Linked DNA regions of Homo sapiens: all the other regions are linked to region 1. The links come from fine-mapping of genetic effects on gene expression. A gene starts in region 1. Each other region holds a variant in brackets. All regions are shown on one strand. Distances are between the middles of the regions. Region 1 holds the start of CCL28 (C-C motif chemokine ligand 28). Region 2 has its middle 120 kb from the start of NNT-AS1. Region 3 overlaps CCL28 (C-C motif chemokine ligand 28).

Region 1 (10,803 bases):
TTCTTTTTAAAGTAAAAACTATGTGGTTCTTCCTGGTAATTTTTTTTGTTTTTTTCCTGGAAGGTTACATCTAGATATTCTTAGCCAGGACCATTTCATAAATGGAAAACACAAAACCAGACATAGTTTTAGGTCCTCAACTGTTTCATTCTATGGCTCAACTATCCTCTGGGCCCTAACGGCACACATTTCTGTCTCCTCATTTTCTTTTGCAGAGTCCCTGTGCACAGAGAAAAATACTTAGGTAATCAAAGTTATTCATCTGAATCCACCCCTTTGGGGCTCCTTCCTAGTTTATCGGTGGTCCATTTCTGCCTAGTTAGCATCCCTCTCAAACACAGACACACATGCCCCATAATCATAAACTGTCCTGTGTTCTCTGCAGACAAAAATCCCATGGTTCAGTTTTTCTCTCACTCCAAACAAAACTGATGTGCCCAGCGTTCCTCTTATTCATGTCTTAGTACAAAAACTTAGTAAAAAAAAATGACATGGCATAGGGTTTTTAGTGGTTTACAGGTTCCTGTTGGCAGATGTCAGGCTTGCTTTTTAGCACCAGGGTAACATAATACCCTCCCATAAGGCTGTAATTCCAGTGGTGGTAATTTCATGAGTGCTTCAATAGTTTTGGTTCTACATGTTATAGCAGCTGTCTTCTAGTAACCACTACCCAACCCACGAACCTGTTCCAGTGCCCCCAGGAAAGTGTGGATGAAAGGGAGAGTGCTAACAACCCAAGGAGGAGTCCCTTTGTTTTCCAAGTCCCTGGATTCTGTCCCTATGTCTTCCTGCTGGCAGGGGCAAGGTGACATTTCCTAGCAGAAGAAATATGCACACAGTGAAAGAGAAGCTGTCTTGTCAAATACAAAAGCAAATAAAAGTACACGAGTGAATACAGGGGGCCTAATTGCAGGCTCATTCAAATTCAGTCCAGCCTTTCTTGTCAGTGCCCTAATAACTGTGTTATACAGTGGCATGATCATAGCTCACTATAGCCTCAACCTCCTGTGCTCAAGAGATCCTCCCACCTCAGCCTCTCAAGTAACTGAGACTACAGGCGCATGCCAGTGCCTGGCTAATTTTTAAAAAAATTTTTAGTATAGCTGAGGTGTTGCTATGTTGGTCAAGCTGGTCTCAAACTCCTGGGCTCAAGCAATCCTTCCACCTTGGTCTCCCATAGTGTTGGGATTACAGATATGAGTCACCACACCCAGCCTCCTGACTCTTATCTTCAGAGCACACGGCTTTGGTCCAGAGGGGCTCCTGTGGTTATGGCTGGTGTGTGTAATTTCACAGGTCTTTGTCACCTCCACAGGTTGGTTCTCTGTCCTCCTTTATCAAGACCTGTGGTAAGGTCCCTTTGCTTAGTGGAAAGGCTGGAATGCTGCTGTGGGTCTTCTCATTCAAGAGGTCACTATCTTTGCAAGTCTGTTGCTCTCCAAAGCTCCCATTCCTTATTATAACTCTGGTTCTTGATAGTGAATTGGAGCTTGGTTAAATGTAACTTGATAGCTGGGGTAAATTTGGACACCTGCTCTTGATCTTCAAAAGCAGCAACACCCAATGCAAATATGTGATCTACCCATGTGATTTGAAATATTCTGGGTTTCAATTACATATGTAATTGTTTTAGTCTGTTTTATGCTGCTATAACAGAATATCTCTGTTTGAGGAAAAAAACTCTCGAACTGTTTTTCCTCTGCTCTCATACCACAAAAATCATCAACACAGAAGACTTCTATAACCAAATATGTAGGGGGTAAATTGGTGCATACACCAAGCAGCGGACACCAGCTAGGTGTCCTCCAATTCAGTTCTGACACTATCTACCAAGAGATAGTGCCAGAACCAGAGGTTGAGGGCTCAGTCCCATGAGATCACCCCCTACTTCCCACCAGTCACAAGTCCAGACCTCCAGAACTTCTGAACAGCTGGCTCCAAGTTGGGGTTCCCACAACCTCTCTATGGGTTTGATTAATTGGCTGGAGTATGGGGGAAATTCAGCCAGATATCGGGCGAAATTCACCCCCAATATTTCACGTAGGTTCTTTTCTATATTCCCTAAGTGTTGGCCAGTCTGAGAAATAAAGGGACAGAGTACAAAAGAGAGAAATTTTGAAGCTGGGTGTCCAGGGGAGACATCACATGTTGGCAGGTTCTGTGATGCCCCCTGAGCCGTAAAACCAGCAAGTTTTTATTGGTGATTTTCAAAAGGGGAGGGAGTGTATGAATAGGGTGTTGGTCACAGAGATCACGTGCTTCATAAGGTAATAGAATATCACAAGACAAATGGAGGCAGGGCAAGATCACAGGATCACAGGACCGGGGCAAAATTAAAATTGCTAATGAAGTTTTGGGCATGCATTGTCATTGATAGCATCTTATCAGGAGACAGGGTTTGAGAGCAGACAACCAGTCTGACCAAAATTTATTAGGCAGGAATTTCCTCATCCTAATAAGCCTGGGAGCACTATGGGAGACTGGGGCTTATTTCATCCCTACAGCTTCGACCATAAAAGATGGCCACCCCCTGAAGTGGCCATTTCAGAGGCCTACCCTCACTGACACATTCTCTTTCTCAGGGATGTTCCTTGCTGAGAAAAATAATTCAGCGATATTTCTCCCATTTGCTTTTGAAAGAAGAGAAATATGGCTCTGTTCCGCCCGGCTCACCGGCAGTCAGAGTTTAAGGTTATCTCTCTTGTTCCCTGAACATTGCTGTTATCCTGTTCTTTTTTCCAGGTGCCCAGATTTCATATCGTTCAAACACACATACTCTACAAACAATTTGTGCAGTTAACGCAATCATCACAGGGTCCTGAGGTGACATATATCCTCCTCAGCTTATGAAGATGATGGGATTAAGAGATTAAAGACAGGCATAGGAAATCACAAGGATATTGATTGGGGAAGTGATAAGGGTCCATGAAATCTTCACAATTTATGTTCAGAGATTGCAGTAAAGACAGGCGTAAGAAATTATAAAAGTATTAATTTGGGGAACTAATAAATGTCCATGAAATCTTCACAATTTATGTTCTTCTGCCATGGCTTCAGCCGGTTGGTCCCTCCATTCGGGGTTCCTGACTTCCTGCAACACTGGAGTGGCTCACAGAACTCAGGGAAATACTTACATTTAACGGTTTATTATAAGAGACAGTACAGAAGATACAGATGAAGGCCAGACATAGTGGCTCATGCCCGTAATCCCAGCACTTTGGGAGGCCAAGGCAGGAGGATCGCTTGAGGCCAAGGTATGGGGGAAGGGATGCAGAGCTTCCATGCCTTCCCTGGGCACGCCACCCTCTAAGAACCTCCACATGTTCAGCTATCCAGAAGCTCTCCAAACTCTGCCCTTTTGGGGTTTTACAAAGGCTTCATTACATAGGCATGATTAACAACCATGTAGAAATGTGATTAGACAAAAAGCACATAATCTAAACCCAGCAAGTCCTGCCTGTTCAGGCTTTTCTTGGCCTGTGTAGCATTCCTTCCTCTAGAGTATGGGACAGAACCCTTTCTGGAATGAGGATCTTATGACCCACAATCAGATTAGAGTCCTGCCTTGGGCAGGTGAAAGAAAAACAGAAGGTCAGAGAGAGATTCCGTTTCCTGAGGCCTGTTCCTGAAGCCTAAAGTGCCCCAACATTATAATATAAAAAAAAGACTGGGCTGGGCACAGTGGCTCATGTCTGTAATCCCAGCACTTTGGGAGGCCAAGGCGGGTGGATCACAAGGTCAGGAGTTCAAGACCAGCATCTTGCCAAGATGGTGAAACTCACTCCAGCCTGGGCAACAAAGCGAGACTCTGTCTCAAAAAAAAAACAAACAAACAAACAACAAAAAAAAACTGTAACAAGGGTTATGGGAGTTATAAGCCAGGAACCATGGATAAAAGCCAATATATATATCATAACACCACAACCCGAGACTGAGCAATTTATAAATAACAGAAATGTATTCTCTTACAATTATGGAGGCTGGGAAGTCCAAGATCAAGGCTCCAGTGATTTCAGTTTCTATTTCCAAGATGATGCCACTTTGCTGCATCTTTTGGAGAGAAGGAGCATTGTGTACTCACCTGGCAGAAGAGCAGAAGGTACCAACCCATTCCCACAAGCCCTTTTTATAGTAGCATTCATCCATTCATGAGGGTGGAGCCATCATAACCTAAACATTGTCCATTAGGCCCTATCTCCCAGCACTATTAGGGATTAATTTTCAACATGAGCTTTGGAGAAGAAAAAAATATTCAAACCACAGCAGTAATTTGAAAACATAAAAAGAAATGGGTGAAATTAATTTTAATAATATATTTTATTTAACCCAAAAAGTCCAAAATACTATCATGTAATCAATAAACAGTATAAACATTATTAACAAGATATTTTATATTTTTTTCTGTACCCAGTCTTTGAAATCCAGTGTGAATTTTATACCCATAGTACATCTGAGTTTGGACTACTCATATTTCAAGTGCTCAAGAGCCACATGTGGGCTAGCGGCTACCACATAGGACAACACAGTTCTAGAGGAAGCATGGCATGACTTTGGAGGTCATCTAGTCTGACTTGTTATTTACAGCAAAGTTAAGTACGTTGCCTGAGGTTATACAACTTATTAGTAGATGAGGAACAATTAGAATCCAATTATCTTCATGCTACCCCATGCTTTTATTCACAAAGCTGATTGGCAGCAAAGCTGCACTAGCGCTCATGCCTCTTCACACCTGCTCTTGGGCTCTTTTCTACAAGGCATTGCCCCCCTTCCTGTCTTTCTCCTAAATAAGCTATTGTAAAAAGCTTCACTGGAAACAATTTGGCTGTGAACCAAGACTAAAGTGGGGTTTAATACTTCCATATCTTTCCACAAAGATACATTTTTTATGACTTGTCACCCTTGTCCCCAGAAACTCATGGTTTCCATAAGCTACTTAAAAACTGATTATGCAATGGGTCTCAACATAAGTGTCCATCAGAATCACCTATAGAGCTTTTACAAAATTCAAATGACTGGTCTCCTACCTGGGAGTTCTGGTTTACAAATCAGGGAAAGGGGAGAGTCATTTAGATTGATTTTTTTTAATGTTCCCCAAATGATTCTGATGCACACCCCACCTCACAGTGACCCTGCCAGCTGCCAGATCTCCATTGACATCCCCTGACCCCCAGGCAGGATGAACACAAGTTAGGAGCTTAATAAGTCGAGGAGGAGCCTGGTCTTAAGGAAAGAAACATGAGAAATAGATACCCTGAACACCTCCCAGGGCGGGGCCACCTGGCTTACTTTTCCTCTGCACTTTCTCTGTGCCCAAGGACACCTTTAGCCTCATTTCCTGATCGAACAGCCTCACTTGTGTTGCTGTCAGTGCCAGTAGGGCAGGCAGGAATGCAGCAGAGAGGACTCGCCATCGTGGCCTTGGCTGTCTGTGCGGCCCTACATGCCTCAGAAGGTGAGTGGGGGCACTGGACACTTAGGCCTTCACTGGAAAGGGGGGTATCTCCCAAATCTGTGCTGGAAGGATTGAGGTGGGGCAAGAATATCTATCTCTTCAAGCAGGAATTTCCAATTGATTTCTGATTACCTACAAGAGAATGACATAGCTTTAAATTCTAGATCTCCCAGAAGTTTCAGGAAGGAACCTCATTCTAACAGGCATACTACAAATTTTTGCCACCTGGAGGATGAGGTCCTTCCATGTAGGTACAACTTCGAGCTATGTTTCCTTTTCTGAAGACAGTATCTTAGAAAATCCCCAGCTAGAGGCTGGAGTAAAGCCCCTACTATTCATCTGTCTTCCTCCACACCCCAACCTGCTAAACGGTCTGAACACAACTGTGCACATTCCTGGAGGGAAATACAGACTTGGCCAGCTGCGTTCAAATTAGGTAAGTTGTAAATTTCCTGAGCAAAGTCAGCTCTATGGATACAGAAAACTGAAACTTCAGTCTGACCTTTAAAAAGGGAGGGCAGAGCTGAGCACAGTGGTGCATGCCTGTATTCCCACCTACTTGGGAGGCTACGGCTGGAGGATAGCTTCAGGCCAGGAATTCAAGATTGCAGTGAGCTATGATCACACTGTGAATTGCCACTGCACTCTGAATTGCCACTGCACTCCAGCTTGGGCAACATAGTAAAACCCCATCTGTTAAAAACAAAAAGAGGGGAGGGGAGGGGAAAGAGAAGGAAAGGAAGAAAGGAAAGGAAAGAAAGAAAAAGAAGAAAAGCAGGATGAGGGAGATTGAACCATACAAATTATGTCAAAGAGAATTTAAATCGTGAGTTGCTAGCATGTATTTGGAGATTGTAACTGCATTTGAACTAGAGGGAATCTCTTCTAAAGTAGCACTCACTACTATATTCAGGAAACCCTAAGTGTCAGTACTTAATACTTGACCAATGACTCTTTTCCATTGTCATCTTTTCTTTAAGCTTTATCCTGAACAGATTCTCTAAGTCTAGAGCAGAGGTGGAATATAAGTCTTTGGTCTGCTTTTTAAAAATCTGAGCCAACATTTTAAAACTGAAAGCTTTCTCATGTACATACTCATACATACACACATACAAATTGGATTTTAAAGCTTCTCTTGAGAAATCAGATGTGGCAACAATGATTCCACCATACCATGGCAAGAACTGGCTAAAGCAGATGAGCCTCTGAAGTTTGCTGTATTAACTGCCTGGTCCCTGCAGGCATTTGCTTAGGGACTCCCAATATAGTCCGTCAATGTACTGGGCTTATACAAATAAGCAACAGAAAAAACCTGGACAATCTCTTCTCAATTTCTACTAATCTATCTATCTTATCAATATAAAGACAAAAATTTGTCACTTTATGTTTCTGTAACATTTCTCAGAAAAATTCACCATTGAGATTTGGGGACTCATTTTCACTATTTCTGAAAGGCCTACCTGCTAAGGCTTCACTCCTAGTTCTGGTAATTCCACCAACTCAAATTTTTTACATAAAACTTTGAAATGTGTACCTCCATCCAGCTTCCTGACCTACTCCCACCTGTCCCCACAGCGGCAGCTCTCCTACAGGAAAGGAGGGAGGGAACAGCAGGTCGAGGAGGCAGAGGGTAATGAGGAAGGCTCTGCCATACCCAGGACCCACCTTCACATGGGACTGAGTCCTGGTAGAGACGGTGGGGTGGAACGGCAAAATGCAGAGGTGTGTGAAAAGGTACGGCTGCTGGTGATAATAAGGAAGGGAGCCGAGAGACCCAGCAATAGCCTTTTGGGTTAGTCTCGATGCTTTACCTAAGGCAGTTTAGGCCACAGGAAAATCACATTGCCTGAGAAGCTCCAAACTTCTGTCATTTAAAAATAAGTGATACTGGGTAAAAATACACAAGTAGGCCTGAGAACAGTCGTGGAATAGAGGGGCAACGCCACAGCTATTCTTAACAAACTTCCACTCAAGTGTCCATGTAAGCCAGGTGCCCTGTGGGAGGCACTTAAGTGATTCTGGCTCCAGGGAGGGGGTGGAAAACCAAGTGGGGAGGGAGGAAGGTAGAGAACACTCAACAACTCAACAGTGCAGAGAAGAGGACAGGTGGCCTTGGCAAGGGGAATAGGAAAAAGGCCTGTGCCAGTTTGGAACTTTGGGAAATATATTTTGTTTCCTTGAGGCAGAAAGCTGTTCCCTTATCTTAATGGTGTCTTAAATGGCTATCTTGTTGTGATGGCTCAATAACTGGCATTCCCTAAGTGTTTTGCATAAATCAGGAAGCAGGTGACTTTATCTATAATTAAAAGCCTTGGATTCTGCCCAAAGGTAGGGCACACTCCACCTCTGCTGACGTGGCTGCTGGCTCCCAGAACTCAATACTGAATCCATAAACATGTCTATCATCCTGTTTCGGTGGCCCTGAGCCTGATTATTTAAACCCACAATCTAGGACTTTGTGGGCCTGGCTGTTTTATTGTACATTAAGATTAAGGCTCACTTGTGCCCAGCAGATTCAAGTTAGGAGGTTTTGCTGCAGTGAGTCCCAAATTGCCTTCCCACTGACAACCTTCTTTCTCAGAGTACAATGGCTACTGAATCACACCAATACTTGCTAGAGATTTGCTGCTTGCATCCTAAAACGTTTACCTTTTGTTTTAATCATAAGACTCTGGCTAGGGAAGGTTACCACGAATATACATTTGTGACTCAATGTTGTTCTGCACAATTGGGACTCCAATTGTGGTCCCTAAGAGGTCTGACATAGGTGGGACTACAGGTGCATGCCACCACACCTAGCTAATTTTTTGTTTGTTTGTTTTTGGAGATGGAGTTTGTTGCTCTTGTCGCCCAGGCTGGAGTGCAATGGTGCAATCTCGGCTCACTGCAACCTCCGCCTCCTGGGTTCAAGCAATTCTCCTGCCTCAGCCTCCTGAGTAGCTGGGATTAGAAGCGTGCACCACCACACCCAGCTAATTTTTGTATTTTTAGTAGAGACGGGGTTTCACCATGTTGGCCAGGCTGGTCTCAAACTCCTGACCTCAGGTGATACACCCACCTCGGCCTCACAAAGTGCTGAGATTACAGGTGTGAGCCACCATGCCCAGGCACACCTGGCTAATTAAAAAAATTTTTCTTGTAGAGATAGAGTCTCACTATGTTGCCCAGACTGGTCTTGAACTCCTGGCCTCAAGCAAGTCTCCTGCCTTGGCCTCGCTGCCTGTAATCCCAGCAATTGGGAGAATGAGGCAGAAAGATTGCTTGAGCCCAGGAGTTCGAGGCTGCAGTGAGCCATGATCGCACCACTGCACTTCAGCCTGGGTGAAAGAGTGAGACTCTCATTTCAAAAAAAAAAAAAAGTAAAAAATTACCAAAAAAATAAAATTACCAAAAATGTCACAAAAATTAAAGAATTTATCCTAATATTATGAAAGTTACAAATACTTAGTGTATTTTCAAATATAAAAATTTAAAGAATTAAAAAAAGGAAAGTCCCTCTTCATCATTCCTTTAATCCCTCTCCCCTCTCCAGAGGGTTCTGCATATCCTTCCAGAATTTCCTCTATGCATTTAGCAATGTGAACCCACACATACATCCACACCAATTTTTTTTTATTATACTTAAAGGTCTAGGGTACATGTGCACAATGTGCAGGTTTGTTACATATGTATACATGTGCCATGTAGGTGTGCTGCACCCATTAACTCATCATTTACAATAAGTATATCTCCTAACGCTATCCCTCCCCGCTCCCCCCACCTTACGACAGGCCCTGGTGTGTGATGTTCCCCACCCTGGGTCCAAGTGTTCTCACTGTTCAATTCCCACCTATGAATGAGAACATGCGGTGTTTGGTTTTCTGTCCTTGCAATAGTTTGCTCAGAATGATGGTTTCCAGCATCATCCATGTCCCTACAAAGGACATGAACTCATCCTTTTTTATGGCTGCCTAGTATTCCATGGTGTATATGTGCCACATTTTCTTAATCCAGTCTATCATTGATGGACATGTGGGTTGGTTCCAAGTCTTTGCTATTGTGAATAGTGCTGCAATAAACATACATGTGCATGTGTCTTTATAGCAGCATGATTTATAATCCTTTGGGTAAATGCCCAGTAATGGGATGGCTGGTCAAATAGTATTTCTAGTTCTAGATCCTTGAGAAATCACCACACTGTCTTCCACAATTGTTGAACTAGTTTAGAGTCCCACTAACAGTGTAAAAGTGTTCCTATTTCTCCACATCCTCTCCAGCACCTGTTGTTTCCTGACTTTTGAATGATTGCCATTCTAACTGGTGTGAGATGGTATCTCATTGTGGTTTTGATTTGCATTTCTCTGATGGCCAGTGATGATGAGCATTTTTTCATGGTCTGTTGGCTGCATAAATGTCTTCTTTTCAGAAATGTCTGTTCATATCCTTCACCCACTTTTTGATGGGGTTGATTTTTTCTTGTAAATTTGTTTAAGTTCTTTGTAGATTCTGGATATTAGCCCTTTGTCAGATGGATAGATTGTAAAAATTTTTCTCCCATTCTGTAGGTTGCCTGTTCACTCTGATGGTATTTTCTTTTGCTGTGCACAAGTTCTTTGGTTTAATTAGATCCCATTTGTCAATTTTGGCTATTGTTGCCATTGCTTTTGGTGTTTTAGTCATGAAGTCCTTGCCCATGCCTATGGCATGTATGGTATTGCATAGGCTTTCTTCTAGGGTTTTCATGGTTTTTGGTCTAACACTTAAGTCTTTAATCCATCTTGAATTAATTTTTGTATAAGGTGTAAGGAAGGGATCCAGTTTCAGCTTTCTACATATGGCTAGCCAGTTTTCCCAGCACCATTTATTAAATAGGGAATCCTTTCCCCATTTCTTATTTTTGTCAGGTTTGTCAAAGATCAGATGGTTGTAGATGTGTGGTATTATTTCCGAGGACTCTGTTCTGTTCCATTGGCCTATATCTCTGTTTTGGTACTAGTACCATGCTGTTTTGGCTACTGTAGCCTTGTAGTATAGTTTGAAGTCAGGTAGTGTGATGCCTCCAGCTTTGTTCTGTTTTGCTTAGGATTGTCTTGGCAACGTGGGCTCCTTTTTGGTTCCATATGAAGTTTAAAGTAGATTTTTCCAATTCTGTGAAGAAAGTCACTGGTAGCTTCATGGGGATGGCACTGAATCTATAAATTACCTTGGGCAGTATGGCCATTTTCATGATATTGATTCTTCATATCCATGAGCATGGAATGTTCTTCCATTTCTTTGTATCCTCTTTTATTTCATTGAGCAGTGGTTTGTAGTTCTCTTTGAAGAGGTCCTTCACATCCCTTGTAAGTTGGATTTCAAGGTATTTTGTTCTC
Region 2 (10,452 bases), 310 kb before region 1:
ATCATGGTAACAATTTAAATGATTTTGCCCCCAACCAAAGGTAATGTTGTATTTTAAGGAGAGTAAAGAAAATCTTTTAATTCATTAGGATTGTACAGTCAGCCCACAAAACTTTCAGAATTTGGTGATTGTAATCGTCTTAATGAGAATGAGTATTTTTTTCTTCCAAGAGTTTAACATTGTTACCAGAAAGTAATATGAGGTTTTCTCCAAGTAGTTTAACTTAACTATAAAGGTCTGTCTTAAAGTGTTCTAATTTTTCATTGTCTTTTTCTATTTAATTCACAAATTTCTCATTTCCCCTTAAGTGAATAAACCATAAACTCAAATATTTTTCTTCTCATTGGCTCACAAGCACCATCTAGTGAAAAAACAGAATAATTACAGAATAGTTTCTCATGGGAATCACTATTTACTTTGTATTAACAAAGCCCAATACAATACCATTTTTTCATTGTTCTAAAACAGAATGAGATGTGTTCAATGAAACGTTATAGACAGGGCTAAAATTTGCATTCAAAAGTTGTTATTGTTTTGAATTTGCAGATATTGAGAACTAGCTTGCTTTCTATTTCCAACCCCTATTGGCCTTCCCACTACCAGGGACTATGAGTTATCAGATAGCATTTAAGTGATAAATTTTATGGTACCAATATTGCAGAATTGTTTTTGAAATTTATTGTTCTGTATCAGCCCACCCTTTGCTCTCTCCCTTTTCCTTTTCATTTCTCGTGCTATGTTTTTAAAAATATATTCACCAAACCATCTATTGAGGACAACACTTGCCCTCAAGAAGTTCACAGTTTAGTAGATTTAGATGTTAGGGAAATAAAGTATTACAGGTATTATGATAGTGTATAGTGTATAGTAGAATTAATCAATTCAGATAGAATTGGCTACTATTTTGCAATTTATTGTAGATCAAGAAGCACATCTTATTATACAGCAGAAACTCTTTTAGCCAGCCTCCACTTAACCAACTCACTACATTAACTGAAGCTCTTCATTGCATCTGTAAAATATATTGATTAATTCCCACTGTATACTGAATGCTTTGGGCTAGTAGGCTACTCTAAAATGCTCGTGGACTTCTGTTGCTACCAGCTAATTGTATGCTTAACAAGAGGCAACTGGGTTTTGTTTCCAAACATGTTCATGCAAGATTTACTTGCAGTCACACAATATTAATTACACAATTTAATTAAATAATACATCAACCAATAAAATATAAGTTTAAGTACTATTGTCAAATCAGGTTGGAGTGAAACAACTATAAAAGATTTGAGGAAAATCATAAAAACTAAAAGAATTCTGCATTCAAATTGCATTGAAGATGTTTTTAGGTTTTTACTCTAATTTTAAAAAAAAACTTACTTGATGTCTATAGATATGTTTTATGCAAGAGAGACAGTGTGCAGCATTTCTAGTATCTCAAACCTTAAGATGAAGTGAACAATGATGACAAAAGGATTAATAACCAAGAACCATATAAAAAAGTGGCAAAGAGGCTTAAGAATAATGTCAAAAAAAGCAAAAGCACAAAGGGAGCTCAAGGCTGTGGAAAAAAACAATAAACTTCGCCCTTAAAATCATATTTAGCGAAAAATGAGAGCAGGAGATGTGCACATCTTTGGAGTATGGTAGATGATGTCATAGTAAGTAGCAGAGAGAAAGTTGATCTCAAATCCCATTTTCCTCTGTTTCCTGTAAAAGAGAGTGAAACTTAGATGGAAAAAAGACCCTTACAAAGGACCTCATAACTCCTCTAAATTGCGTTCAAATGAAACTTTCACATGCTATTTCCAAGCATAATTCCAGAGCATGCTTTGAGCTGACGGAATCTGTAGTCAGCCATCTTTAAAGAATCAAGACAAACTAGAAAAGTGTTACAAGTGTTACAAATATATTCCTGACCAAAAATGGCAAGAAGTGGATAGTGCAAATGATGGACTGGACTGTTAATCATCTTCAGCTACATTCCAGAACAAATTATTAAAATCTTAGACTATGAGAATTTTTAAAGGGAACCATGTTGAGTATGGATCAGAATTAGTTCATAGAAAACAAGTCCTACCAGAACTAACTCATTTCTGGGTTTGTGTATTTATTACGTTAGTCAGTTTCTTATTTTTGTGTGCTTTTAGAAGATATTTGACAAAGCTTCTAAGATATTTTTCTGGACAAAAAGTGAAGAAATATGAGTTCAATATACACAGTTGTTTCTACCTAAAGTACCCAGATTAACAGATCAGAGTCAGCCTTGGAGAAGAGCTTGGAATGCATGTTGCCCAGTTTTAGCCTAAGCCCTACAAAATGATGACATCTTTTTTCCCTCAGTGAATCCAGTGAGAAAATTGATGCTGTATTTGCAGGTGACACAAAATTAGAAGGAACAGTCAACACATTGGATGAAACAGAATCAGAAACCTGATCTCAGAGGATAGAAAATGGGCTCAAATGAGTCAAGTTAAAAAAAAAAAAAAACTACATGTGTAAATGGGAGAGAAATGGATTCACATCAGCAGCATGTGTAGAAAAAGATGAAGGGTTTTAGTTAAGTTCATTGTAAGAAAAAGAAGTGTCAAAAGAGTTCATGTTATCATAGACTGTATTAATTAAAGAATTAGTAGCTTAGAGAGGAGATGCCCAGAATAGTCTGTCAGTGGTGTCAAATGTTACAGAAATGTGCAAGAAAATGCATTTGAGATATGTATTTGGTGATGAGGTTATTGTTTACTTTCCAAAGTGATTTCAGTTAAATAATTAAGGTAGGGACCAAAAAAAAAATTTTTAAGGAGCAAACAGAATGTGAGCAAAAGTACCCATTAGAGGGCTTTGATTGGTAAAGGGAAGAAAATAACTTTTAGATAGAGAAGATAAGCTAATATTAGATTAATGTTAAGTACTCTTGTTTTTTTAAAAAAACTTTGAAATTTTATGCAATTTAGAGTAAAACAATTAAAATTCAAAAACTACATGCTTAGTATTCCTAGATTATTATCCAGCTTCAGCTGTGCTGTCTCTAATAATCAGTAATTTTTATATTTTATTTTAATTTTTTTTAAGATAAGCATATCAGAAAGACCAACTCTGGGTGATACAAAGGAACTAGAATATGGTTTAGCAGAATTATTGGAGTAGTAAAAAGAAAAGAGGAATCTAAACTGTGAGCAACAGCAGACAGAAAATTTTCTGCCTATCAGCTCTACCATAAAGAAACAACCTGTATAGGAAACATGGGCCAGAATGGAACAGAGAAAAGAGTCAGAAGATGATGAAGAACCCAGACAATAAAAAGAGGAGCACTAGAAGTAAAAGGAGGACAGAAATTCTGCCCAAACCAGGCTAGACTACAAGCTTCATAATTTTTGAATAAGGAAAGAGTAATAGTTAACACCGAACCACAATATGGTTTTCTAGTTGAATAATTTGTAGCTTGTTATGTGGATATGTATGCTTAGGTAGATAATGAGGACTACAGCTATACCATGAAAAAGAGAGGGAGAAGAAGAGAGAGAGAG[A/G]GGGAGAGAGAGAAAGGAAAAGAGAGGGAAGAAAGACAGGGAAAACTACTCAAGAGCAGCCTGCCCATAAAAAGGAGTACTACAGACCCTGGGAGTGAAGCACATGATCCTTCTCATGGCACCACACCAAAACAACTGATTCTGTATTTGTAAAGGGTGAAAAAATCTTTCTGAAAAATTGACTCTACCAAACACATGCATGAAGTTAAGCAAATGTCAAATTGGTACAATTACTATATTTCTTTGCTTCTTTGTTTAGTATCACAAAGAGTTCAAAAATTACAAATAGTTTCAACTTACTAAGAAGTTGTTTTCTAAATGTTAGTTGGCAAATCAGTTCTATGACAGCAAAGTGTTGTGGTTCAGAGTGGAGCCAGACAGCCCAGATTCAAATCCTGATGCCACCACCTACTTAATTAATTGGGCCCTGAGCTTCCACATCTATAAAATGGGATAGCTACTCAAAGGATTGTTCTGCTGTAATTAATAAGTTAGTATATTGAAAGTCTTTAGGACAGTGGTTGGTACTTAATCAGTGTTAAACAAATGTTAGCTATTGTAATTAGCATCCTTATAGAAAGAGGAACAGGAGCATAATAGGGCCGTGGCTATGGGAAAAAAACAGGAGAGAAATACCATGTCACCAGGAAACTGATGATAAACAGGCATAAGTCATTTTATTGTGCTTTAAGGCATTTTGCAGATATTGTGCTTTTTTACAAATTGAAAGTTTGTAGCAACCCTGCATTCAGCAAGTCTGTCAGCATCATTTTTCCAACAGCATGTGCTCACTTTGTGTCTTTGTGTCACATTTTGGTAATTCACATAATATTTCAGACTTTTATATTATTTTTATATTTGTTATGGTGATCTGTGATCAGTGATTTTAATGTTACTATTGTAATCGTTTTGGGATTGATAAATGTTGTGTGTGTTCTGACTGCTCCATCAACCAGCCATTCCCCAATCTCTCGCCTTCTCCTCAGGCCCTCCCTATTACCTAAGACACAATAATATTAAAATTAGGACAATTAATAACCCTATAATGGCCTCTTAAGTTTTCAAGTAAAAGGAAGAGTTGCACATCTCTCACATTAAGTAAAGAGATAGAAATGATTAAGCTAAGTGAGGAAGGCATCTTGAAGGCCAAGACAGGCTGAAAGCTATGCTTTTTGTGCCAGTTAACCAAGTTGTAAATGCAAAGGAAAAGTTCTTGAAAAAAATTAAAAGTGCTACTCCAGTGAACACGTGAATGATAAGAAAGTGAAACAGGCTTATGGCTGATATGGAGAAAACTTGAGTGGCCTGGAGAGACGATCAAACCAGCCACAACCTTTCATTAAGCCAAACCTAATCCAGAGCAAGGCTTAACTCTCTTCAATTCTCTGAAGGCTGAGAGAGGTGAGGAAGCAGCTACAGAAGAAAAGTAGAAAGCTAGCAGAGATTGGCTCATGAAGTTTAAGGAAAGAAGCCATCTCTGTAACATAAAAGTGCAAGGTAAAGCATCAAGTGCTGTTGTAGAAAGTGCAGCAAGTTATCCAGAAGATTTAGCTAAGATAATTGAAGGAGGTGATCGCGCTAAACAAAAGATTTTCAATATAAATGCAACAGCCTTCTACTGGAAGAAGATGACATCCAGGAATTTTGTAACTAGAGAGGAGAAATCAATATCTGGTTTCAAAGCGTCAAAGGACAGGCTGACTCTCTTGTGAGAGGCTAATGCAGGTGGTGACTTAAAGTTTATGCCAATGCTCATTTACCATTCTGAAAATTCTAGAGCCCTTAAGAATTATGCTAAACCTACTCTTCCTGTGCTCTAGAAATGAAACCGCAGAACCTGGATGACAGTGCGTCTGTTTACAGCATGGTTTACTGAATATTTTAAGCCCACTGTTGAAAACTACTGCTCAGAAAAATAGATTTCTTTCAAACTATTACTGCTTATTGACAATGCACCTACTTATCCAAGGGCTCTGCTGGAGATGTGCAAGCAGATTAATGTTATTTCATGCCTGCTAACACAAGAGTCATTCTGCAGCCCATGAGTCAGGAAGTAATTTTGACTTCCAAATCTTATTATTTAAGAAACACATTTTGTAAGACCATAGCTACCATAGATAGTAATTTCTCTGATGGATCTGGGCAAAGTCAATTGAAAAGCTTCTGGGAAGGATTCACCATTCTAGATACCATTAAGGACATTCATGATTCATGAGAAGAGGTCAAAATATCAATATTAACAGGAGTTTGGAAGAAGTTGATTATAACCCTAAAGGATGACTTTGAGGGGTTCAAGGCAGAATGGAGGAAGTAACTGCAGATGTGATGGAAATAGCAAGAGAACTAGAGTTAGAAGTGGAGCCTGAAGATGAGACTGAATTGCTGCAGTATCATGATCAAACTTTAACATATAAGGAGTTGCTTCTTATGGATGAGCAAAGAAAGTGAGATGGAATCTACTCCTGGTGAAGATGTTGTAAACACTGTTGAAATGACAACAAAGGATTTAGAGTAAACTTCGTTGATGAAGAAAGAGCAGGGTTTCAGACACCAATTTGAAAAGAGGTTCTATGAGAGTAAAATGCTATTACACAGCGTCACATACTACAGGGAAATCTTTCATAAAAGGAAGAGTCCATCAATGCAGCAAACTTCATTGTTGTCTTATTTTAAGAAATTGTCACAATCACCTCAATCTTCAGCCACCACTACCCTGACCAGTCAGGAGCCATTAACATCAAGGCAAGACCCTCCACCAGCAAAAAACTATATATATATATGACTCATTTATGGCTCTGATAATTGCATTTTGTAGCAATTTAAGTATTTTTAATTAAGGTATGTACATTTTTAAAGACATAATGCTATTACACACTTAGTTGACTATAGTTTAGTGTAAACATAACTTTTTTTTAATTTATTTTTTTTTAATTATACTTTAAGTTTTAGGGAACATGTGCACATTGTGCAGGTTAGTTACATATGTATACATGTGCCATGCTGGTGCGCTGCACCCATTAACTCGTCATCGAGCATTAGGTATATCTCCCAATGCTATCCCTTCCCCCTGCCCCCACCCCATAACAGTCCCCAGAGTGTGATATTCCCCTTCCTGTGTCCATGTGATCTCATTGTTCAATTCCCACCTATCAGTGAGAATATGCGGTGTTTGGTTTTTTGTTCTTGTGATAGTTTACTGAGAATGATGATTTCCAATTTCATCCATGTCCCTGCAAAGGACGTGAACTCATCATTTTTTATGGCTGCATAGTATTCCATGGTGTATATGTGCCACATCTTCTTAATCCAGTCTATCATTGTTGGACATTTGGGTTGGTTCCAAGTCTTTGCTATTGTGAATAATGCCACAATAAACATACGTGTGCATGTGTCTTTATAGCAACATGATTTATAGTCCTTTGGGTATATACCCAGTAATGGGATGGCTGGGTCAAATGGCATTTCTAGTTCTAGATCCCTGAGGAATCGCCACACTGACTTCCACAATGGTTGAACTAGTTTACAGTCCCACCAACAGTGTAAAAGTGTTCCTATTTCTCCACATCCTCTCCAGCACCTGTTGTTTCCTGACTTTTGAATGATTGCCATTCTAACTGGTGTGAGATGGTATCTCATTGTGGTTTTGATTTGCATTTCTCTGATGGCCAGTGATGATGAGCATTTTTTCATGTGTTTTTTGGCTGCATAAATGTCTTCTTTTGAGAAGTGTCTGTTGATGTCCTTCACCCACTTTTTGATGGGGTTGTTTGTTTTTCTCTTGTAAATTTGTTTGAGTTCATTGTAGATTCTGGATATTAGCCCTTTGTCAGATGAGTAGGTTGCAAAAATTTTCTCCCATTTTGTAGGTTGCCTGTTCACTCTGATGGTAGTTTCTTTTGCTGTGCAGAAGCTCTTTAGTTTAATTAGATCCCATTTGTCAATTTTGTCTTCTGTTGCCATTGCTTTTGGTGTTGTAGACATGAAGTCCTTCCCATGCCTATGTCCTGAATGGTAATGCCTAGGTTTTCCTCTAGGGTTTTTATGGTTTTAGGTCTAACATGTAAGTCTTTAATCCATCTTGAATTGATTTTTGCATAAGGTGTAAGGAAGGGATCCAGTTTCAGCTTTCTACATATGGCTAGCCAGTTTTCCCAGCACCATTTATTAAATAGGGAATCCTTTCCCCATTGCTTGTTTTTCTCAGGTTTGTCAAAGATCAGATGGTTGTAGATATGTGGCATTATTTCTGAGGGCTCTGTTCTGTTCCATTGATCTATATCTCTGTTTTGGTACCAGTACCATGCTGTTTTGGTTACTGTAGCCTTGTAGTATAGTTTGAAGTCAGGTAGCATGATGCCTCCAGCTTTGTTCTTTTGGCTTAGGATTGACTTGGCAATGCGGGCTCTTTTTTGGTTCCATACGAACTTTAAAGTAGTTGTTTCCAATTCTGTGAAGAAAGTCATTGGTAGCTTGATGGGGATGGCATTGAATCTATAAATTACCTTGGGCAGTATGGCCATTTTCACAATATTGATTCTTCCTACCCATGAGCATGGAATGTTCTTCCATTTGTTTGTGTCCTCCTTTATTTCCTTGAGGAGTGGTTTGTAGTTCTCCTTGAGGAGGTCCTTCACATCCCTTGTAAGTTGGATTCCTAGGTATTTTATTCTCTTTGAAGCAATTGTGAATGGGAGTTCACTCATGATTTGGCTCTCTGTTTGTCTGTTCTTGGTGTATAAGAATGCTTGTGATTTTTGTACATTGATTTTGTATCCTGAGACTTTGCTGAAATTGCTTATCAGCTTAAGGAGATTTTGGGCTGAGACAATGGGGTTTTCTAGATAAACAATCATGTCATCTGCAAACAGGGACAATTTGACTTCCTCTTTTCCTAATTGAATACCCTTTATTTCCTTCTCCTGCCGAATTGCCCTGGTCAGAACTTCCAACACTATGTTGAATAGGAGTGGTGAGAGAGGGCATCCCTGTCTTGTGCCAGTTTTCAAAGGGAATGCTTCCAGTTTTTGCCCATTCAGTATGATATTGGCTGTGGGTTTGTCATAGATAGCTCTTATTATTTTGAAATACGTCCCATCAATACCTAATTTATTGAGAGTTTTTAGCATGAAGGGTTGATGAATTTTGTCAAAGGCTTTTTCTGCATCTATTGAGATAATCATGTGGTTTTTGTCTTTGGTTCTGTTTATATGCTGGATTACATTTATTGATTTGCATATATTGAACCAGCCTTGCATCCCAGGGATGAAGCCCACTTGATCATGGTGGATAAGCTTTTTGATGTGCTGCTGGATTCGGTTTGCCAGTATTTTATTGAGGATTTTTGCATCAATGTTCATCAAGGATATTGGTCTAAAATTCTCTTTTTTGGTTGTGTCTCTGCACGGCTTTGGTATCAGAATGATGCTGGCCTCATAAAATGAGTTAGGGAGGATTCCCTCTTTTTCTATTGATTGGAATAGTTTCAGAAGGAATGGTACCAGCTCCTCCTTGTACTCTGGTAGAATTCGGCTGTGAATCCATCTGGTCCTGGACTCTTTTTGGTTGGTAAGCTATTGATTATTGCCTCAATTTCAGATCCTGTTATTGGTCTATTCAGAGACTCAACTTCTTCCTGGTTTAGTCTTGGGAGAGTGTATGTGTCGAGGAATTTATCCATTTCTTCTAGATGTTCTAGTTTATTTGCGTAGAGGTGTTTGTAGTATTCTCTGATGATAGTTTGTATTTCTGTGGGATCGGTGGTGATACCCCTTTATCATTTTTTATTGCGTCTATTTGATTCTTCTTTTCTTCTTTATTAGTCTTGCTAGTGGTCTATCGATTTTGTTGATCTTTTCAAAAAAAAACAGCTTCTGGATTCATTAATTTTTTGAAGGGTTTTTTGTTTCTCTATTTCCTTCAATTCTGCTCTGATTTTAGTTATTTCTTGCCTTCTCCTAGCTTTTGAATGTGTCTGCTCTTGCTTTTCTAGTTCTTTTAATTGTGATGTTAGGGTGTCAATTTTGGATCTTTCCTGCTTTCTCTTGTGGGCATTTAGTGCTATCAATTTCCCTCTACACACTGCTTTGAATGCGTCCCAGAGATTCTGGTATGTTGTGTCTTTGTTCTCATTGGTTTCAAAGAACATCTTTATTTCTGCCTTCATTTCGTTATGTACCCAGTAGTCATTCAGGAGCAGGTTGTTCAGTTTCCATGTAGTTGAGCGGTTTTGAGTGAGATTCTTAATCCTGAGTTCTAGTTTGATTGCACTGTGGTCTGAGAGATAGTTTGTTATAATCTCTGTTCTTTTACATTTGCTGAGGAGAGCTTTACTTCCAAGTATGTGGTCAATTTTGGAATAGGTGTGGTGTGGTGCTGAAAAAAATGTATATTCTGTTGATTTGGGGTGGAGAGTTCTGTAGATGTCTATTAGGTCTGCTTGGTGCAGAGCTGAGTACAATTCCTGGGTATCCTTCTTGACTTTCTGTCTCGTTGATCTGTCTAATGTTGACAGTGGGGTGTTAAAGTCTCCCATTATTAATGTGTGGGAGTCTAAGTCTCTTTGTAGGTCACTCAGGACTTGCTTTATGAATCTGGGTGCTCCTGTATTGGGTGCATATATATTTAGGATAGTTAGCTCTTCTTGTTGAATTGATCCCTTTATCATTATGTAATGGCCTTCTTTGTCTCTTTTGATCTTTGTTGGTTTAAAGTCTGTTTTATCAGAGACTAGGATTGCAACCCCTGCCTTTTTTTGTTTTCCATTTGCTTGGTAGATCTTCCTCCATCCTTTTATTTTGAGCCTATGTGTGTCTCTGCCTGTGAGATGGGTTTCCTGAATACAGCACACTGATGGGTCTTGACTCTTTATCCAATTTGCCAGTCTGTGTCTTTTAATTGAGCATTTAGTCCATTTACATTTAATGTTAATATT
Region 3 (10,803 bases), 29 kb after region 1:
TTTCATATAAAGGGAATCATACAGTATGGCCTTTCGAATCTGGCTTCTTTCATGTATAATCCCATAACCCTTTGAACATAACTCTTTAACACTTATTTTGCTGTGTTGGGATTATTATGGCCTGCCTCCCACTGGACTATTAAGCATCACAAGGACAGATTATGCCTTATTTCAACTTTGAATGCAGAGCTCAGGGCCTGTCACAGAATGGGCAATCAATAAATGTTTGCTGAACGAATGATGCTTTTCCAGTTCCAAAATGCATGAAACACCGTGTTGACCTCACTCCTTTCATCTTTGATCAGTCTGCAGTACCACCAGAATCCTTGTCTGTAACTCTTTTCATCTCTTTCACTTGTTTTGTGTCTTTGCCTAAATTTACATTTTCTCTTTCACAAATATAGCTTAAATTCCAGAAAGTGGGAACATGTCCTGCCCCAAGTCTGTATTCACAAAGCCATGTTTGCCCCTTGTTTGTGTGGATTAACATTGTTTCTCTGAAATCTTTAAAATGAGAACCATGCCAGTGTTCTATAAACCGTAAAATTTAACATTTTCTTTCTTTTCTTCTTTTAGCCATACTTCCCATTGCCTCCAGCTGTTGCACGGAGGTTTCACATCATATTTCCAGAAGGCTCCTGGAAAGAGTGAATATGTGTCGCATCCAGAGAGCTGATGGGGATTGTGACTTGGCTGCTGTCATGTGAGTGCTCATCAGCCGGGAGGTCTAAACCTGCACAGTGATTATTTCCCTGCCCAACGAATAATAGGTTGGAAAGGCTTTGCTTGATTACAACATACAAACAATCATCCAAACAAGGGAGGGAAGAGTAAATATTCTGTCCATTAGGCCCCAGGCTCCCTGGAGTAAATTCATAGTCTCTCTGTCCAAAGATGTCCTGAGCCCCATACCAGCACACCATCTACTTCCACCCTGTAGTGCTGTGGTTAGGACTAAATTCCCCCAGTCACCAAAAAGTGTTCATGACTTTCCCAAGCAAAACAAAACCCCAAACAAAAGATAACTCTGTTATATTTCATGGCTTTTAACCTTTTTTAGTATATGGGTTGCTGTCATTTCTACTTTATGAATTCATCAGGAGCATATTATAAAGTTCAAAAAGTTAGGCTGGGTGTGGTGGTTTATGCCTGTAATCCCAGCACTTTGGGAGGCCAAGGCAGGGGTATCGCTTGAGCCCAGGTGTTCAAGACCAGCCTGGGCAACATGGTGAGACCCCATCTCTACAAAAAACTTTAAAACTAGCCAGGCATGGTGGCATGCACCTGTAGTCCCAGCTACTTGGGAGGCTGTGATGGGAGGATCGTTGAGCCCAGTTCGAGGCTGCAGTGAGCCGTGCTCATGCCAGTGCACTCCAACCTGGGTGACAGAGTTAAATCCCGTCTCAAAAAACCACCACCACCACAACAACAAAAAGGCAAAGAAAAACAAAAGAAAAGGTTCAAAAAGAAGCGTGGAAATATCTATACCTGTCACAGTGCTATATGCAATCCAATCAGAAATGCCAATCCAATCTCTGCTTTTGATTCTGTGGTGTTGGTTCACAGTGAAGCCTCCCACCCCTGCCCCTGGCTCAGTTATTAAAAGCTTTGTTTGTATATGTACTTAACATTTCTATGGAGGCTCTAACATCTGAACTGCATTGGTATTTAGTAAATCTGGATTCTGACAACAATGCTGTGAGGAAAGCATAAATGATCTCCCAATCATACACAGGAGAAAGCTGTGACTCAGGTTACACGGTTCACTTGTGTACAGCTCGTGAATTGCAGAAACAGGATGTGAACCCAGGTCTCTTAGTTCAGAACACTTGTACACCTCCAATGTCATTCTAAAGCAGTGGTGGGACTAACCATAAAATACCCTCTCCAAACTCTACTGCATCCGAGTATCAGGCATCTCCCTGGCATGCTGGTTTTAACACCATTTGTGGCTCCAGGTGATGCTAGTGAGTCATTTGGTGCTCCTTTCTTTGGGCTATAAATAAACCCATTGCTTATGCCTGAGCTCCTGAGTCACTCAGAAACCTTATTCTTTCAGTGAATTCAACAAATATTTATGAATTAACAATTATGCACCAAGCACTGTTCTATATGCTGGGGATGCAGTGGTGACAAAATGGGTTCTGTCTGCCTAGAGTCTCAAGGGGACTCTTTATCCAGCTGGGTTCTGCAGATCATCTTAATGATTTGAGATGATCTCTGGAATTTGAAATATATTTTCCCCCCTTTCAGAGGGATTTATCCATTATTCAATTTTGAGGAAAAACTGCTCCAAGATAAGCGTTCTTAAAAGTTCAGAGGAAGAGTTTGTAAGATGTCTGTTGATAGACTTTCATCAGGTTAGGGGCTGTGAACTTCCTGAAATTTTTGTGTATGAACCTGTGAGCATTTTTAGAGGGTCCATAGGTTTTATAAGATTCTCAAAGTTTCTGAGATCAAATAAAGTTTAAAGGTCACACTCAGGGTCAGATGTAGGGGAGGAAACAATTCTTGATTCAAACTTGTATTAAGCATGAGTGTCTTTGTGGGAGAAGGGAGAAGCCTGAGAATTTTCTCAGCATCTCCTCAGTTCAAGCCACCACGTGGCTCCATTGGCTCAGGTGGTTTAGTCATTGGGAACCAGCATCATCTGTGGCACTCCAGGGGCTACATACCAATGAGGATTCTGAGGGGTGCTCCAAGTTCCCAACTTCTTTGAAAAATTCCTTGGTACATGTCTGGCCAAGATTCTACCAGTCTTTTATTTAATCTTAAAGAATATTGTTGGTAATAGTTGGAAAGTAAAAAATTCATAGACAATGCGTGGATAGACAATGCTCTAGGTAGTTAGAAACAGCTGGATATTTGTGTCAAGTGGACACAGCTGCACTAAATCTGTCTGAACCTGCTCCAGTTGCTCTGAGAAACTCCAAATTTTCAACTCCTCTCAATTCCTTCCACCTTATTGGCACATATCACCTCAGACTTGAAGCTTGAAGCTTGTAAGGGCTCCAATAGGACTCCCAGAAAGGCTTGGAGAAAAAAAACAGAGGAAGTTTCTGTGGGTGTATAAGAGATTCTGGAGGTTATCCAGGGAAGGTATTGGTAACAGGATTTTCAGGGATGTTTCTTTGGGATAAGCAGGTGTCAGAGATCTGAAAGGCATAGGAACAGAAATGATGTTTTGCTGTGATAAGGGAAAATATAATCAGAAACATAAGTCTTCATTTTAAAAAGGACTCAATTTTAATTAAAGAGGAACTAGGAAGCCAATCAGTTGGATCTAAAAATATTTACTTTATTCAAGCACAATTTGTAAATTGACCTCTCTGTGCTAAGAAAGCTGAAAAATACAGAGTTGTTATGACCTAATCTCAAATAAAATTAAATTTAATTCTGTAGTATTTTTTTAACCATAAATTACAGATCCTGTCTGTTGTGTTTCCTGATGTTCAACAAGAATAGATAAAGATTCTCTTGTTTTCAGATTAGTTTAGTATGGAGCATGTCTTTACTTATCTAAAATGTAGTCCCTTATCCCTGACTGGGTATAAAGACTTTAAGATTTGAGAAAGTGTTTAAGATGCAGAAAGCATTGCTAACACTGGAAATGTAATTCCCAAGTAGCATGTATTACTAATAACAATTAATTAATATAAGTCAACGTACGGTAAACTTACTAGGCTTCTTTCTTTTCTGCCTAGAAATAGGTCCTATGTTTTATACCTTATAAATGGTCATTGTAGTTTTTGATGCCTGAGACAGCAGTTTTCTTGTTCAAACTCCTCTACAGTGACTTCATTAATGAGCTTCTGAATGTTTCTGAACATAAATACAATAACAGGTTGTTTATCATGGCCGGGCGCGGTGGCTCACGCCTGTAATCCCAGCACTTTGGGAGGCCGAGGCAGGCGGATCACGAGGTCAGAAGATCGAGACCATCCTGGCTAACACGGTGAAACCTTGTCTCTACTAAAAATACAAAAAAATTAGCCGGGCATGGTGGCAGGCACCTGTAGTCCCAGCTACTCGGGAGGCTGAGGCAGGAGAATGGCGTGAACCCGGGAGGCGGAGCCTGCAGTGAGCCAAGGTCGCGCCACTGCACTCCAGCCTGGGTGACTCCGTCTCAAAAAAAAAAAAAAAAGTTGTTTATGTTGGGCAGAGGCCTGAGGATTCTTGAATCAAACAGACATTTTTTGTTGTGAGAAAATTTGAGGTTTTTAAATAGAATTATCTGGAAGGCTTGAGTAGTTTTTCAGATGTGGTTGTGAGGCGTTGTTGTGTTTAGAGGAATGGGTAAAGAAATAAAGTTTAAGGGATATTAAAGGTATAATCTCTATGGCAGGGCCACCCCTTTACGTCCATCAGACTATCTCCAGCTATCCTCCTGAGGGTTAAGAAAAAAAAAAAGGGGGATTGGCCTCAGGATTTCTTACAGTCAAAACTCTCCACCTACAAACTCACCGTTGGGAAGGTGGGGATTGGTGCCCATCAGAATACTATGGAATTGCGAGTAGGGGAAGGAATGTGGAATAGGCCAGCCCCGTTTCCAACATTACTTCATCTCTTTCTATCCTGGTGGAAAATACATGGGATCCAAGTAGAGATTTAAGAAGTTTTTAAACTTTAGGATTCTAAAACATCATGGGATCTCAGATTTGGGAGCTGTATTCTGGTAGCTGATTTTTTTCCCCAGTTGAATTACATTGAGAGGTTGCCTCACCAGCAAGTCTTTGAAAAAGCCCACATGCTAGTTGTTGCCTGTTTTCCTATGGTCCTCCACCTTTCTGAATCCTCTGTCTATATCTCTTCCATCTGGTTCTCTCCTTCAGCCCCGGTGCCAATGCCCCTCCCTGAATCCCATCTCTCTTATTTTTATAATGGACTTGAATCGTAGGTCTTTCCTGTGTAACTTATGGGCTTATCTGCATGTCACAGAAATCTTCTCTTTTTTTTCTTTTTGAGACGGAGTTTCCCTCTTGTTGTCCAGGCTGGAGTGCAGTGACATGATCTCAGCTCACTACAACCTCCACCTACCTGGTTCAAACGATTCTCCTACCTCAGCCTTCCAAGTAGCTGGGATTACAGGTGCGTGCCACCATGCCCAGCTAATTTTTGTATTTTTAGTAGTAGAGACAGGGGTTCACCACGTTGGCCAGGCTGGTCTCGATCACCCGACCTCAGGTGATCTTCCTGCCTCGGCCTCCTAAAGTGTTGGGATTATAGGCGTGAGCTACCGTGCCCAGCCTGCATGTCACTAAAATCTTTATCTGCTCAGTTTCTTTCTGACATCACAGGGAGAGGCAAGAGTTTTAGTCCTCTGGAAAGGGTAGGAGCTTCAGTGCCAGATTTTTGTTTGTTTGTTTGTTTGTTTGTTTTTGTTTCCTACGCAACAGTGCTACAGCCACGTTTTCTCCTATGATAGCAAACCAACTGACCATAGTGAGAATTAGGCTGTTTGTTTTTTTTTAAGACTCTCTATCTAATACACATAGGGAATATATTATTCTCTTATTAAGATGCTCCACTTCTTTCAAATTAATATTCCCCATATGCTGGCTTTATTATGTTAAAGCTCATTTGTAACTTTCCCCCGATTCTCCCCACTTTTCTCCCATTTCAGTAGTCCCTACATTAGCTGAAAAAGATTCAACTTGCGTCATCTAGAAAAATAGCAGCTTATTCTCTACCCCACCTCTGTTTTTTCCCTGAATAACAGGGTCAGAAGTTTCAATTTATCTGGATACGGAAATACTATATATGTAGAGCCAGCAGGATTTGTGACATTTGGTAAGAGCTGATGACCCCTCATGAGGAAATTAGAAGTCACCAATATCTTTTTCAACAAAAAAAATTATTCTAGTTACCAGAAACTGTGCATGCTGTAGCATTCTCCCAGCCCACTGTGAAAACTTCATATAGAAAAATGAAAATGAGCCAGGTGCAGTGGCTCATGTCTGTAATTCCAGCACTTCGGGGGCTGAGGCGAGTGGATCACCTGAGTTCAGTAGTTCAAGACCAGCCTGGCCAACATGGTAAAACCCCATCTCTACTAATAATACAAAAATTAGCCAGGTGTGGTGGTGCACACCTGTAATCCCAGCTACTCGGGAGGCTGAGGCAGAAGAATCACTTGAACCCGGGAGACGGAAGTTGCAGTGAGCCGAGATCATGCCATTGCACTCCAGCCTGGGTGACAAGAGCAAAACTCCATCTCACCAAAAACAAAAAAAAAGAAAAGAAAAATGAAAATGAAAGCACATTCTGAACTGTGGCATAGATCTATATCATATTAA[A/G]ATGTTAACAAATGCCTAGAATATCTTAGTTTTGTTTTGTTAATTTAAGTTTTAAATTAAGTTTAAGTTTTAAATTAGTTTCAGTTTTGAATAAGGCGTTTTCAAGACACTTCTAGACTATTCCTCCTTCAAGGAGCATAACTCCAGTAGGAAAGATGAGACAAGTACTCAGATAAAAGACAGAATAAAGTAAGTGCCAGAAAAGAGATAACTCTCACCGTGGAGAATCAGAGGGGAAAAAAGACGGCATCTAGCTGAGAGAATCTACAAATCCTTACGGATCAGAAAAATCTCAAACAAACCTTAAGGATGTGTTTGAGATGGGCTGTGAGGATGAATTGGTTTTGTTGGGTTCACTTGGTTTTTATTATTGTCTCTTTTCCTCCTTTTCTTCTTCCTCTTTTTTCTCCCTCCTTTTCTCCTTCTTCTCTTCCTCATCCAATTCCTTCTTCTCCTTCTCTTTCTTTTAATACTCTCTGATGATATCTGAGGACCCACAGGCAGCAGTGTTTGTAAAGTCAAAATTGAACCTTGTGGTGCTCAGCTTTAGAATTCACTTCATTTCTACACTTAATTCAGAAATTTAGTCTGAATTTAGTCTCTAGGAATACAGTGTCCCAAAGTGGGAGCTGCATGTAAGTCACTAAGTGATTATTTATATATGTTTTATATCAGTGACTTTCTTTTGCTTCCTTTTCTAACAGCCTTCATGTCAAGCGCAGAAGAATCTGTGTCAGCCCGCACAACCATACTGTTAAGCAGTGGATGAAAGTGCAAGCTGCCAAGAAAAATGGTAAAGGAAATGTTTGCCACAGGAAGAAACACCATGGCAAGAGGAACAGTAACAGGGCACATCAGGGGAAACACGAAACATACGGCCATAAAACTCCTTATTAGAGAGTCTACAGATAAATCTACAGAGACAATTCCTCAAGTGGACTTGGCCATGATTGGTTGTAAGTTTATCATCTGAATTCTCCTTATTGTAGACAACAGAACAAAACAAAATATTGGTTTTTAAAAAATGAACAATTGTGCGGTATGCAAATGTAGCCAATAATATACTCAACTGGAAAATGAAATGAAAAGATAATACTGGCTGGGTATGGTGGTTCACACCTTTTATCCCAGCACTTCGGGAGGCTGAGGCAGGAGGATCACTTGAGACCAGGAGTTTGAGACCAGCCTGGGCAACATAGCAAGACCTCATTTCTACAAACAAAAAAAAAATTGGCCCGGCATGGTAGTACTTGCCTATAATCCCAGCCACATGGGAGGCTGAGGTGGGAGGATCACTTGAGTCTGGGAGAGTTTGAGGTTGCAGTGAGCAGCCTGGGTGACAGAATGAGACCCTGTCTCTAAAAATAATAATAATAATGATAGTGTATATCTTCATATAATATTTTAAGAGGAGCATATAGATATAACTTCTCCCAACTTTTTAATTATAGTTTTCCAAACTTACAGAGAAGTTAAAAGAATGGTACAATGAACATCTATATATCTTTCACCACAATATTAATCATTGTTAATATTGTGTCACATTTGCTTTCTCTCTCCTCTCTTTGTATGTGTTTCTATATAAAATATTATAACTTTTAAAATATATCTTGTTTTGCTAAACCATTTGAAAATAAGTTGCAAAAATCATGACACTTCACCCCTAGTTTCTTTTTGGTGTTATAACTTGACATACCCTAAAATAAAGACATTTTTCTACATAATCACCTTATCAGTTTTATACCTAAAAAATTAATAATTTCATCTAATATATTCCATATTCAAATTTTCCCAACTATTTAGAGAGCATTTTATGTAGTTTTTTTTTCACTCCAGTAATCAATCAAGGTTGACATACATATTGCAAATAATTGTTATTTTTCTTTAATATCTTTCAATCTAAGAAAGTTCCTCTGTCTTTTTTTTTTAATTTTTAAAATTATTTTGTTGAGGGAGGGTCTTGCTGTGTCTTCCAGGCTGGAGTGCAGTGGCACAATTTTGATTTTGGCTCACTGAAGCCTCAACTTCTAGGGCTCAAGCAATCCTCCCACCTCAGCCTCCCGAGTATCTGGGATCAAGGTGCATACCCACCACACCTGGCTAATTTTGTTTATTTTTTGTAGAGACAGGGTCTCACTATGTTGCCCAGGTTGATCTCAAACTCCTGGGCTCAAGCGATCCTCCCACCTTAGCCTCCCAAAGTACTGGGATTATAGGTGTGAGCCACAGTGCCTGGCCTAATTATTTTCTTGTGATCAAATTCAGGTTTAATGTTTTTGGTTAAGAATTTCCTACGTGAATTCGTGTACTTATTTTGTCATTTAGAGTTCATAAATATTAGGGTTTATTTTCTAAATAGAATAGTTTAAACTAAATATAACTTCAAAACGTCTAGTTTGAGTAGCTACCGTTGTTTGGATTGAAATTTTCTGATACTGAAAAGAACAAAAAGCCTGCCTTTCTGCCCAGAACCTTTTGCCTCCCCCAGTCAGTTCTTGGAGCAGCACTAGTTAGGGGCCCAGAGTTCGGCCTTCTGTGTGGTGATTTTACGCTCTGCCTAAACAAGGAGCCTACATCTTTTAGCTCCTATTCCACCCTTCTCACACGTTTTTGTTGTTGTTTGGTTGTTTTTTTTTGAGACAGAGTCTCACTCTGTTGCCCAGGCTGGAGTGCAGTGGCACAATCTCGGCTCATTGCAACCTCCGCCTCCCGCGTTCAAGTGATTCTCTTGCCTCAGCCTCCCAAGTAACTGATATTACAGGCGCCCAGCCACCACACCCCGCTGATTTTTGTATTTTTAGTAGAGACGGGGTTTTCCCACGTTGGCCGGGCTGGTCTCAAACTCTTGACCTCAAGTGAACCACCCGCCTGTGCCTCCCAAAGTGCTGGAATTACCAGCGTGAGCCACCATGCCGGGCTCACACGTTTGAGTTGATACCATTGTGCCATTCCTCTTTTGGCCTCTTTTTTGTCCATAGAGGCTTCAAGATAGATAGGTAAGAGCCCAGTAGTGTTCATAAGAAGCCAATAGAGAGCAGGAGCCACTTTATCAGGTGGCAGGTGTCCTGGGCCTCCCTGCTGGCTAGTCCCAAGCGGTGGTGTTGCCAGGATGTCTTGGAGGTGATAATGGGACACACAGAGGCACTGAGTCTCCATAGGTTAAAATGCCACCAAAACTGGCCTTTGCCTAATATCCCTCATTGACTATTTAGCATTTAATTTATTTATTTTCCTGACATTTCTGCAAGCTTTGTATTTATATTTCCACTTTATAGATGAGGAAATTTGAGGCTCTTAGAGGTAAAATGACTTGCCCAGGTCACACAGGAAGTGGCAGAGACAAGCTTTTTAAATAAGAAAAAATTAATAAAATATAATATGAGAGTAACTTAAAATATTAATAAACCACAATTTTAAATTAATTAACCGTGATAACCAACATTAATAAAAGTTAAGATACCAAAACACTGGTGTCTAATTCTTTCAACTAACAACTTGAATTATTTTCCATTTTAAATTAATTAACCGTGATAACCAACATTAATAAAAGTTAAGATACCAAAACACTGGTGTCTAATTCTTTCAACTAACAACTTGAATTATTTTCCATTTTATTTCTTCTTACTAGATCGATCTGCAATTCTACACAATTGTTGGGCAGCTATGAATGACAGTAGGTTTACATGATATATTTTAAAAACTGATTTTTCTGCCACGCAAATAATTGAACTTTGTCTGAAGATAGTGTGCCTGGGAAACCAGATTTTTTTTATTTTTATTTTTATTTTTATTTTTTTGAGATGGAGTCTTGCTCTGTCACCAGGCTGGAGTGCAGTGGTGCAATCTCGGCTCACTGCAATCTCTGCCTCCTGGGTTCAAGCAATTCCCTTGCCTCAGCCTCCCAAGTAGCTGGGACTACAGGTGCGAACCACCACATCTGGCTATTTTTTTGTATTTTAGTAGAGACAGGGTTTCACCATGTTGGCCAGGATGGTCTCAATCTCCTGACCTTGTGATCCACCCACCTCGGCCTCCCAAAGTACTGGGATAACAGGCGTGAGCCACCGCGCCCGGCCAAAACCAGATTCTTAAAGAAATTACATTTTACAGGTTATTGCATGTGCTTAGTAAAACATTATTGTATCACTGTTACTGTACTATGTACTATTATTGTACTAAGAGTAAATACTGTTACTATATCATGAGTTACTGTATTATGAGTAAATCACCTCGTTAATCCTTTAAGTTTTCTTTTTGAAAAGTTACATTTTTATTGAAGTAATATAGGTGTGCGATTTAAAAAATCAAAAGTACAGCAGAATTTATAATAAAAATAACATCCTCCCACCCTATCCTCCCTACTCCTAGACCTATCCTTGAGGCAACATCTTGTAATCCTTTTTTTTGAGACAGGGTCTTGCTCTGTTGCCCAGGCTGGAGTGCAGTGGAGCAATCTGGGCTTATTGCAATCTTGACCTCTTGAGCTCAAGCAATCCTTTTACCTCAG

The links. PIP is the estimated chance that this variant, and not a neighbour inherited with it, causes the effect.
Region 2: its variant is the best candidate, but not a certain one, in a credible set for the expression of CCL28 in whole blood (TOPMed, PIP 0.50).
Region 3: its variant is the best candidate, but not a certain one, in a credible set for the expression of CCL28 in whole blood (TOPMed, PIP 0.72).

The regions. Positions count from the first base shown.
Region 1 is chr5:43,406,902-43,417,704 of GRCh38, reverse strand. It overlaps CCL28 (C-C motif chemokine ligand 28), which reads left to right and starts at 5,314. Exons shown (of 3, transcript NM_148672.3): 1 at 5,314-5,452. The coding sequence starts at 5,389.
Region 2 is chr5:43,719,964-43,730,415 of GRCh38, reverse strand. No RefSeq gene overlaps it. Among named protein-coding and RNA genes, the nearest start is that of NNT-AS1, 120 kb to the right of the region's middle. The variant A/G (reference allele first, on the strand shown) is at 3,522.
Region 3 is chr5:43,378,250-43,389,052 of GRCh38, reverse strand. It overlaps CCL28 (C-C motif chemokine ligand 28), which reads left to right. Exons shown (of 3, transcript NM_148672.3): 2 at 577-703; 3 at 7,001-9,860. The coding sequence ends at 7,193. Among named protein-coding and RNA genes, the nearest start is that of CCL28, 29 kb to the left of the region's middle. RefSeq lists an enhancer at 2,005-2,074. The variant A/G (reference allele first, on the strand shown) is at 6,297.